Linked DNA regions of Homo sapiens. The protein of the gene in region 1 purifies or fractionates together with the protein of each later gene. This does not show direct contact. Each region holds a gene or a part of one and is shown on either strand. Other genes may lie near its edges. The genes, in order: FUCA2, MAN2B2 and RAB21.

The links.
Region 2: the proteins of FUCA2 (region 1) and MAN2B2 purify together in Homo sapiens (affinity purification with mass spectrometry; 2 studies listed by BioGRID and IntAct, with this or other methods). This does not show direct contact.
Region 3: the proteins of FUCA2 (region 1) and RAB21 purify together in Homo sapiens (affinity purification with mass spectrometry; one large-scale study listed by BioGRID and IntAct). This does not show direct contact.

The regions. Positions count from the first base shown.
Region 1 is NC_000006.12:143,501,586-143,505,241, reverse strand, and holds part of FUCA2 (plasma alpha-L-fucosidase precursor), read left to right. Parts: intron 1-989; coding exon 990-1,329; intron 1,330-2,676; coding exon 2,677-2,887; intron 2,888-3,119; coding exon 3,120-3,310; intron 3,311-3,656. UniProt on the Homo sapiens protein: Alpha-L-fucosidase is responsible for hydrolyzing the alpha-1,6-linked fucose joined to the reducing-end N-acetylglucosamine of the carbohydrate moieties of glycoproteins.
Region 2 is NC_000004.12:6,606,189-6,609,844, forward strand, and holds part of MAN2B2 (epididymis-specific alpha-mannosidase isoform 1 precursor), read left to right. Parts: intron 1-2,918; coding exon 2,919-3,110; intron 3,111-3,609; coding exon 3,610-3,656.
Region 3 is NC_000012.12:71,782,218-71,785,873, forward strand, and holds part of RAB21 (ras-related protein Rab-21), read left to right. Parts: intron 1-352; coding exon 353-441; intron 442-3,313; coding exon 3,314-3,456; 3' UTR 3,457-3,656. UniProt on the Homo sapiens protein: The small GTPases Rab are key regulators of intracellular membrane trafficking, from the formation of transport vesicles to their fusion with membranes.

The DNA.
Region 1 (3,656 bases):
CCTTATAAATGTCTATTCTCAAAGATTCTTTTAGATTTTAGTGGAATAGTAACAATGTATTTAAGTCTCTAGGCACTGATGAAATTTTTGAGGCTTTCATATTTATTATGTTTTAAGTATTTCAGTTTATATATCTCTTCTAACATTTTTATATGGAACAATCAGTAATCTAAATACAAATTCCTCTTAAAAACGAACCACTTCTAAGTGTTTGTATAAAGGTATACATTGTTTTTCTTATCTATGTAGTTGGTAGACTATTCACTTTTGGGTAATTTTATTAAAGAGGAACATCCAAGCTTATGATTTTATAGTAGGATGAGATTACACGTGGTGAGTATATTTTAAAGTATAGAACTATTGGGAATAGTAGGGGTTTTTTTTTGCCCCTCTGGTTAAATAAATAATCAGGCTAAAAGAGATTTGCTATACGTGGATCACCAGTGTTCTAAGAATCACACTATAATAAAATAAACAATCCTAAAACTAAGCAGTAGACTTCAAGCTTTGGTTTAGAAGACACTAAGAATCTTGCAGGAGTGCATCTCAGGATCTTCATAATAAATAGTGGTAGTCATCATTTAGCATGGTACATGTATATGTTCCCATCTTAGTTGTGAGCTGCTATTGTTGATTGTTTATACCTTGTGCTAGCAGTTGGCTGGAGACATAGCAGGGAGCACTGCAGACATGATGCAATCCCTTAAGGACCTTAAAATCTAAGAGGGAAAATACTGGAGATAGATCAGACCGTACAGTGATATACCCTGAAAGTTGCTTTTAAAAACCTGTCTCACCTTGTTTAAATTCTCACTTCTCATATAAAAGCACAATATATGCTATGAAAAAATGGCCATAAAACAGTCATTTGTAGGAGCAGGTATTTATATATCGCATGTACTATGTGATTTGTTTGGGCATTTGTGTGGGTTGAAATTTACTAAAATAAAGTTGACATGCTTACAAGGGTTTTCACTATAATTTTCTAGGCTTTACCTTGTGGGGGTCAGAATATTCGTGGAACTGGAATGCCATAGATGAGGGGCCCAAGAGGGACATTGTCAAGGAACTTGAGGTAGCCATTAGGAACAGAACTGACCTGCGTTTTGGACTGTACTATTCCCTTTTTGAATGGTTTCATCCGCTCTTCCTTGAGGATGAATCCAGTTCATTCCATAAGCGGCAATTTCCAGTTTCTAAGACATTGCCAGAGCTCTATGAGTTAGTGAACAACTATCAGCCTGAGGTTCTGTGGTCGGATGGTGACGGAGGAGCACCGGATCAATACTGGAACAGCACAGGCTTCTTGGCCTGGTTATATAATGAAAGGTGTGTATGCTATGAGATTGCTGCAGTTACCCTCCATATTCCTAATATATTTCTAACATTTTAATTCCTTCACCTCTTGAAATATTTCATTTTAAGTCATTGGTGGTATGGGGGGAGAAAATCATTGTAAATAATACTTATTAGATATATCACTATTTACTCAACATAATCAAGGGTAAATAAATCAGGAGTAAAATCCAACTCAATGGTCTGATTTTGAGATCAGACTAAAAATCACAGGATCAAGAACTTTGAAGGTGTTAATTTTGTGGGTCCCCCCTTTTTCTCTCCTACCCTGGTCCTTTATGGCCTCTATTCTGGGACAACTCTGTTTCTTCATCACTATTTCTGACTATTTGCTTCTGAATCCCGCAGACTGCTTCTTTTTATCCTCTTACCTTTTGGTCATCTTTGCTGCCCAGCCAATGTCACCCTTGTTTGTCTCCTCTTTTCCTTCATCGCAGCCTTTTCACTTTCTCCAGTTTTTTCCTATTGCTTCCTGGTATGTTCAAGGCTGCCCTATTAGAACAGGGAGTTCTGATTAAACTCCTCCATTAGGCTTAAACTATATGGACCAAATTTGCATGTACACTAGAAAGCACTGGGTATTGTGCTACGAAGTCAGGCAACCTTCTGCTTGCACTTCCTGGGCCCACAAAGGGCACAAATACAAATATTCTGAAGAACTCTTGATACTTAAAACAGCAGTGTGTCCAGGTACTCCTTCCAAGGGAAAAAACTGGGAGCCATCACTTCAATTTGTGACTCAAAACTGTTCCCTCTATGTGGCGTGTATTTCCCTCTTAAATATGCCACCTGCTATGATAAGCAATATTGTGGGGATATTTCACATGATATCAACAGTCAAATTTTCTGAGATTTTTCAATATTAGGCACAATGGTAAGAGAAAAAGAAAGGCTAGACTACATGTATGAGATCATTGAATCATTGAAAAGAAAAGTGTCTTGGGTATAAATTCAGTTTTGGCTACCATTTACAATATGGAAGGGAGCTTAAAATATTCATATAATACTCTTATGAGTGCTATATGTGCTGGGTACCAGGCTAATGTTTTACATAACTTATTTTTGTTCTAATCATAGATGAGGAAATTCATTATTCAGAGGAGTCAGGTAATTTGCTCTAGGTCTGGGAGCTAGAAAGTGACAAAGCCAGAACTCCAATCAACTCAGGTCTGTTTGACTTCAAAACCATGGGCTTTCCACTGTACTATGCCATGGTCCCTTTTCAGAATTGTATTTCAATTACATGTCTTTTCAGTGACATTTCTTTTTGTATAAAAAGCTTATACCTTTTGTTTTAAAAAATTGTATGTTTCATTTCAGCCCAGTTCGGGGCACAGTAGTCACCAATGATCGTTGGGGAGCTGGTAGCATCTGTAAGCATGGTGGCTTCTATACCTGCAGTGATCGTTATAACCCAGGACATCTTTTGCCACATAAATGGGAAAACTGCATGACAATAGACAAACTGTCCTGGGGCTATAGGAGGGAAGCTGGAATCTCTGACTATCTTACAATTGAAGAATTGGTGAAGGTACAGTGAAATGTCTGGTGGCTATTAACATAATATTCTTAATAGTGTGGTCATGTAGGAATTATTTCTTCTATGGCTCAATGGCCTATAAATATAGGACATTGTTCTATCCTGTGTTTGTTCTTCTAGGCAGTGACTATATATACATGTATAAATATATAAATGCAACATATTAGCACATTAAAGATGGAATTATTTTATTTATCTAAAAACATTATTCTTAATTTTTTAGCAACTTGTAGAGACAGTTTCATGTGGAGGAAATCTTTTGATGAATATTGGGCCCACACTAGATGGCACCATTTCTGTAGTTTTTGAGGAGCGACTGAGGCAAATGGGGTCCTGGCTAAAAGTCAATGGAGAAGCTATTTATGAAACCCATACCTGGCGATCCCAGAATGACACTGTCACCCCAGATGTGTGGTAAGTCATTCTTGTTACCAAGTACTCTTTTATAAAGGAAGAGATTTAAAATTTATCAGACATATAAAGAAGAGTAGGATAAAAAGAGAAATTGGATGAATTCCTACATATACAAAGCACTTTCCAAACTTTGCTTACTCTAATATAAAGAGAAGGGGAAGAATTTGCATGTTTTGAAACATTTATTGTTTATCAGATTGAGCTTACATCATTTCTAGGTATCTCCCAGTAGTGGACAAATTTTGGCTGAAAGTACTCAGCTCTTAGAAAAATTGTAAGCTGTTCAGACCAATGAAAAATGCTGAATGGTTAGTCTAAAACGGAGATTACTGTTTAACCAGTTCGG
Region 2 (3,656 bases), on another chromosome or scaffold:
GGCATTTGTACTGAGGTGGGTATCAGGGGAGCTCAGCTCAAGGTCACTGTCAGCAGCTCCCTGCCCACAGAGCTCCAGGACTTCTCTGGGAATGGGGCCCCAGTCAGGTCTGTCCTCATCTTTCCCCAGTGGCTCCTGAGGGAAAGTGGGGCAGGTGCAGGGGTGACAGCAGCCAGCATGGGTGGCTGGCAAGGGGGGAGTTGGGCAGAGGAGCTGCAGAAATGGGAGAAACCCCAGCATGGTCCAAGCCTGCCAGGTTAGGCCAGGAGAGGCAGAATGTGCCCTGTCCGTTCCTCACTCAGGCCCCATGCCCCCTCTGTACATGCCCCTTAGGGCAGCCCACGGACCCCACATGCCTAAGCCAGGGTCCCACCCGGCATTTCCAGCACTGGAGCTCAGGCTGTCCTGTCCCGTTTGTGGCCCTGTCTGTCTCTCTTGTTTTGAACTCCAGTGAGGACAAAGGAGTTCTTATTGGGCTCCCAAAACCCCACCAGGGGTAAGCCTTGCAAAACCAGTGCCTGTCACCTGAGCAGAAAGGAGGAGCTGTTGGTATTCAGAGTAGGGGCCATCGGGAGACGACACCTGGGGCCAGGCCCCAGGCCTCGAAGGGCATAGGGGAGGTTGCTCCATAGGAAGGAGACAGCCTGTGCAGAGGCCTGGGGTGGGAAGCCAAGGGTGCAGACACCAACCCCAGGGCAGTGTGGGTTGAAGGGAGCGCTTCTGTTCCTTATGTAACAGCTTGACTGAGATGCACTTCACATAACACACAATTCACCCATTTAAAGTGGGCAATTCAGTGGTTTCTGGTGCATTCACAGAGTTGTGCAGCCATCACCACAATCAATTTTAGAACGTTTTCATTACTCCAGAAAGAAACTTCATGCTGTTGAGCAATCACTCCCCCACGGGCCCTGGCAATCCTAGACTATTTCTGTCTATATGGATTTACCTGTTCATACAATATGTGGTCCTTTTGCAACTCACTTCTTTCACTTCACATATTTTTCCCCCTTTTTATTGATTGATTGATTGATTGAGAGAGTCTCACTCTGTAATCTAGGCTGGAGTGCAGTGGCACAATCATGGCTCACTGCAGCCTCAACCTCCTCTGGGGCTCAAGTGATCCTCCCACCTCAGCCTCTTGAGTAGCTGGGATTACATGTGCATACCACCACACCCAGCTAATTTTTGTGTTTTGCAGAGATGGTGTTTCACCATGTTGCCCAGGCTGGTCTCAAACTCCTGAGCTCAAGTGATCCACCTGCCTCAGCTTCCCAAAGTGCTGGGATTACAGGCTTGAGCCACCATGCCCAACCCACAACCCACTTAGCATGTTTTCAAGGTTCATCAGTATCGTAGCACGTATCAGTACTTCGTTCCTTTTCATGGCAGAATACTATTCCATCGCATGTATGTACCATATTTTGTTTATCCATTCTTTAGTTGATGGACATTTGGGTTGTTTCCACGTTTTAGCCACTATCAATAATGCTGCTCTGAACATTCATGTACAAGTTTTTGTGTGGACATACATTTTCGTTTCTCCTGGGTACATAGCTAGGAGTAGAATTACTCAGTCACAAGCTAACTCTATGTTTAACTCTTTGAGGAACTGCCCGACCGTTTTCCAAAGCGGCTGCACCATTTTCTGTTCCTCCCAGCAGCAGATGAGGGTTCTGATTTCTTCACATCCTCGCCCACACTTGTTATTTTCTGTCTTTTCAATTATAGCCATTCTCGTGGGCGAGAAGTGGCATCTCATGATGGTTTCGATTTGCATTTCCCTGCTAACTAATGGTGTTGAGCATCTCTTCATGTACTTACTGGTCACTAGCATATCTTCTGTGGTGAGATGTGTCTTTAGATCCTTTACCTATTTTTAAATTGGCTTGTCTTTTATTATTGAGTTGTAAGAGTTCTTTATATATTCTAGCTACAAGTCCCTTGTCAGATTTATGATTTGCAAATCCCTCCTCCCATTCCATGGCTTGTCTTTTTACTCTTTTGATGGCCCCTGGGGGAGCTTTTTAAAAGGATCGTGCGGGGAAGGGGTCCAGGGCCAGAGGCCTCAATTCTTTTCTTTCTCCTCCTCCACCAGCACTCAGTAGAACCCTCCACAGCCTGCCTCCCTTTCCTTCCCCACCCTCACCACAATCCCACAGAGAAGTGGGTGCAGAGGCCATCCACCTCATTGTCCGCCCACAGCCAGGCCAGACTCAGATACAAATACATCACTTGTGCACTTGGTTAGGCCAAATATTGCATTTTACAATTAAAATACTTGACCCCCTCCTGCTCTTCTCCCATCCTCTGTCCTAACACAAACATCCTAATAGAAGGGAGGGAGCACAGAATTTAAAGTCGGGGCTGAATTTGAGTTCTGGCTTGCACACTTCCTAGATGTGTGATCTTGGGTACATGATGTCACAACTTCCAGCCTCGGATGCCTCGGGAGTGGGATGGGTTAACAGTCCCTGCCTTTGGGGGTTGGGAGAATTTAACCAGGTGAAGTCAGTGAAGGCTCTGGCCCATGACATGGGGTCTGTACACATGGGTGTCCTGCTGGACAGCTCAGAGTCAGCATGACAAAAGCCCGTTCCTGCACTGGTTTCGCTTGCAGACCACAGCCTGGGTGAGCCAGTTCCATCTCTTGGGGGTGCCCTCTGCTGACGGCTCACGGTTCCTGTCTGCAGGCTCTGTCCGTCTCCTCGTTTGTGACCCATTCTGGGACAGCATGGAGTCTAAGGCCACACTGGCTGTGGGTGGGGTCTCAGGGCTTCTAGATGAGCTGAGTCACATGGCCTCGTGAGTGCTACGCAGGCCACTCAGATGGCATCTGGAGAGAGAGGCTTGCCAGCCGGTGTCTGTAAGACCTTGTGCAGGATGAGAATGACATCTTCTCTCTCCTGCCTCTGCAGACAGAGTAACCGAACGGTGCGCGTGACCCAGGAATTCCTGGAGTACCACGTCAACGGGGATGTGAAACAGGGCCCCATTTCCGATAACTACCTGTTCACACCGGGCAAGGCCGCGGTGCCTGCGTGGGAAGCTGTGGAAATGGAGATTGTGGCGGGACAGCTTGTGACTGAGATCCGGCAGTACTTCTACAGGTGCTTCCCCTGGGGTGACCCCCACAGCCCGGCACACAGTCAGCGCACGCGTGCAGGCAGCTCAGTGAATGAGGGTCTGTCTTTGCTCTGAACCCCAGCTTCCGGGCCGTGGTTGACACGTGGTCTGATGAAGAAATGAATTGCTCTGGTGTCTGCATGCTGGCTGCGTTTGCGTGTGCTGTGTCACGTTGGTTGGGAGCTAAGTTCAGAGCTGGGAGAGAGACCCACAGACCCTGGGGCCCACAGAGCACCTGTTCTTCCATGATCAGAGCAGACGTAAGGCAGGCCCGGCATGGCAGCCCTGCGGTGTCGGGGAACCAGGCTGCTCCCAGCCGCTCGGGGTCCTGGGTGGTGCTATTGTCCACATGGCCCAAGAAGGCTCCCTGCCTTTCGGCGTACCCTGCCCTGCCCACCCTGCCCACATGAAGGAAGGGAAGCAAAAAGGAAGCATCTAGAAGGTTCCTGGAGCTTCACTTACTGATGCTCCCTTCTCCTCCAGGAACATGACAGCACAGAATTACACGTATGCAATCCGCTCCCGGCTCA
Region 3 (3,656 bases), on another chromosome or scaffold:
TTTACATGGTAATTTCTGGGCTTGTGGCAATAAAGCCCTTACTTCCCTTTTTGACTTCAGTGAAAAATACGAGTGATATAAAACAAAACTATCATGATCAAATAGGCAGTAAGCCAGAAAAACTTTTGAAGTATTTGAGTCCCAAATTAATCTATAAAAATTTCGAGGCTTGTTATATTTGTGTTATTTAAAATTTGATTTAATGTATAGAGAATTTAAATAGCTATATAAACTTAATTTCACTAAACTTGAGTAAATTAATATGTCACTAAAACTGTTACTATAAAAAAGCAGTTAAGACAAAATCATGAATAATATTTTACATCAATCACCGATGTTACTTTTTTTTAAGGTATGCAGAATCTGTGGGAGCAAAACATTATCATACTTCAGCCAAACAGAACAAAGGAATTGAGGAACTCTTTCTTGACCTTTGTAAAAGTAGGTATATTCAGATTTAGTTTGTTTAGAAATGGTTTTTGGTTTTTATTTTTTAAAAAATAGTATGTATTTTACACCAGTGTTACTTTTCAAAGAATTGGTTCTTTTTAAACTATTGACTATTGGTAGTATTTCTGAAGTGCTGTAACTATTTTTTTTAATGCTTAAATACCTACTTTAACCCTGTTTCAAGCAGTAATTAATGGTTATGAAATCATAAGTATGGTGTGGGCTAAATATATATTATAATATATGCATAAGTATTAAAAGTGGAAGGGGAATTTACATATTAAAACAGATTTAAGACCTGTAACAACCTCTTGCAATGAATGGACCTTATTTGGACACTGATTTGTCAAACTAGTGAAAAAGAGTGTTTGTGAAACAAGATATTTGATGATATTAAGATACTATTAATTTTTTAGGTGTGATTATGGTATTGTGGTTATGCTTTATAAAAGGAGTTCTTATCTTTTAAAGACACATTAAAATAATTTAGGAATAAAGTTATGGGTCTGAGATTTGACTCAAAATAATGGTAGGGATGCTTAGGGTTATTCATGAAATTGGGTGATGGATTTTCATTATGCTGTATTTTCTACTTTATGTTTGAAATTTTCCATATTAAAAAGTTTATAGTTTTAAAGAAAAAGGAAAATAAATTTATATATATTCTGAAAATCATTTCTTATATTACCAATAAAATGCATATCTGAGTTTATGGACTTTAGACTCTTTTGAGAATTTGATGAAATCATGGTTTTTCTCTCTAGAAAAGAATATTGATATGTGTGTGTGTGTGTACACACACACACACATTTTGGAATAAATTAGTTTTATAAAACCCTCAAGTCATTCATAATTCTTCTAAAATATTGATTATGTAAGTGATGTCCCCTGATCAGCAGCATCAATATCACTTGAAAATATGTCAGAAATGCAAATTCTTGGGCTCTCCAAGCCTGCCGAATCAGAATTTCTAGGGATGGTGCCCAGAATCTGTGTTTTAACAAACGCTTCATATGATTCCAATGCACACTAAAATATAAGAGCCAATGCTGTACATAACAACTTGGGGATCTTATTAAATGCATATTTTGATTTAATAGGTGTGGGATAGATTGAGGTCCTCATTTCTACAAGCACCCAAGTGGTGGTGATGCTAGTCATCAGGATATCCTCCTTCCTTACCTCCCTCCCTCCCTCCCTTCCTTCCTTCTGATAATGCTTTTAAATAACAATGCACTAAGTCAGTGGCTTACAAATGTTATAAATATCACATCTTCAAAACAATTTTTGCATGCTCCACATGTTTATTTAGAAATTATATAACATGTACAAGTACTAATATGTACATTTTAAAACATACCTAAAAAATAGAAATTTTGGAAAGTTAAAAATAAGTAGATATAGAATTTATAATGTTTTCTTATTTCCTCTTGTTGGATTGTCCCACATACCTCAAATTGTAAACCATTAATCAAGAGCAGTCTCTAATTTAAGAGCCCTTTTGTATTTTAAGGACACCCTCTTTTCTTCCTTCATCTTCTCAAATACGTGTTTTGTAAATACTTTCTCTCAGTCTGTGTTGTGTATTCCCATTTTTCTTACCTGTGTCTCTTAAAGTGCAGTTTTAAGTTTCAGTGAGGTCCAGTTTATCTATTTTTCTTTTATGATTCATGTTTTATGTCTTACATGAGAACTCTTTGTGTAAGCCAAAGTCACAAAAATTTTCTCCTATGAAGATTTTTCTCCTGTGTTTTCTTCTGGAAATTTTGTTTCATGTCTTACATTTAAGTGTATAATTCATTTTTCGTTGTTTTTTGCATAAGATGTTAAGGTGTGGGTTAAGGTTGATTTTTTTTTTTTACAATAGATGTCCAGTTCTATTAATACTACTGTTTTTTGAAAATATTCTTTCTTCATTGAATAACCTTGGCAACCATGTCAAAAATCAAGAGACCATATCTACGGGGTCTATTTCTGGACTGTGTTTTTTTGGTTCCACTGATCTATTTCTCCTATCATTGTCTCACTGTTTTGATTAGTGTAGCTTTATACTAGTTCTTGCAATCAGGTGGTGTGAGTCTTTCTGCTGTGTTCTTCGAAGTTCCCTCATCTTAAACTCCATTATTCTTCAAATATCGCTGTGGTCAGGGACAGTGGCTCACACCTATAAGCCCAGTGCTTTATGAGGCCAAGGCCATAGGATCACTTGAGCCCAGGAGTTTGAGACCAGCCTGGGCAACATAGTGAGACCCCCATCTCTAGCAAAAAAAAAAAACTCAGCCAGGCATGGTGTTGCATACCTGTAATTCCAGCTACTCAGGGACTGAGGCAGGAGGATCAACTGAGCCCAGGAGTTAGGGGCTGCAGTGAGTAAGTGATGATCACACCACTGCACATCCAGCCTGGGTATCAAAGCGAGACCCTGTCTCTCAAAACTAAAATAAAAAGAATCATTTACTTAAAAGTATTACATTTCTAGTTGAAGAATAAATCCTGCCCCCTAAATATTACTTGGAATAATTTGAACTTCTTTGACATATTTCTAAGTGTGTTTGGAAAATCTTAAGGATTATACTTGTACGCAGGCAATTGTTCAGAGCAAAAAAATTTTTTTCTTTATTGATATCACTGTGGCCATTATACCACTGGATAAATAAGCTTACTACTTGATACTAGTTTTTGACACTAGTTTTTTAAAACATGCAGGTGAAGCTGTTTTAGTGAGCTGACCCAATGTTCATTATATTTAGTTTCTTTGTTGGTCGAAAGTCAGAAATAGCTATCATAGTGTTATACTGAAATTTTAGAAAGAGAAAACACAAATATTGTGGTCCTAATAATGTTTGCTTTCTCTCTGTCTTAGGGATGATAGAAACAGCACAAGTGGATGAGAGAGCAAAAGGCAATGGCTCTAGTCAGCCGGGAACTGCAAGGCGAGGTGTACAGATTATTGATGATGAACCTCAAGCCCAGACCAGTGGTGGAGGGTGCTGTTCTTCTGGATAACTGTTCACGCCTAAGAAATTAAAAGACAGAACAAAACTGTGGATCATTGCCCTCAACATGAAGACTGCCATATTCCAAGTCACATTATTTTACCAATGGAATTATAGAATTAACAGTATTTTAAATTACGTTTATAACACTGCAGAGACCTTAAGTGCTAAACTTAGTGGAGTTTGTGACCAGAGAATTGGCATTTTCTA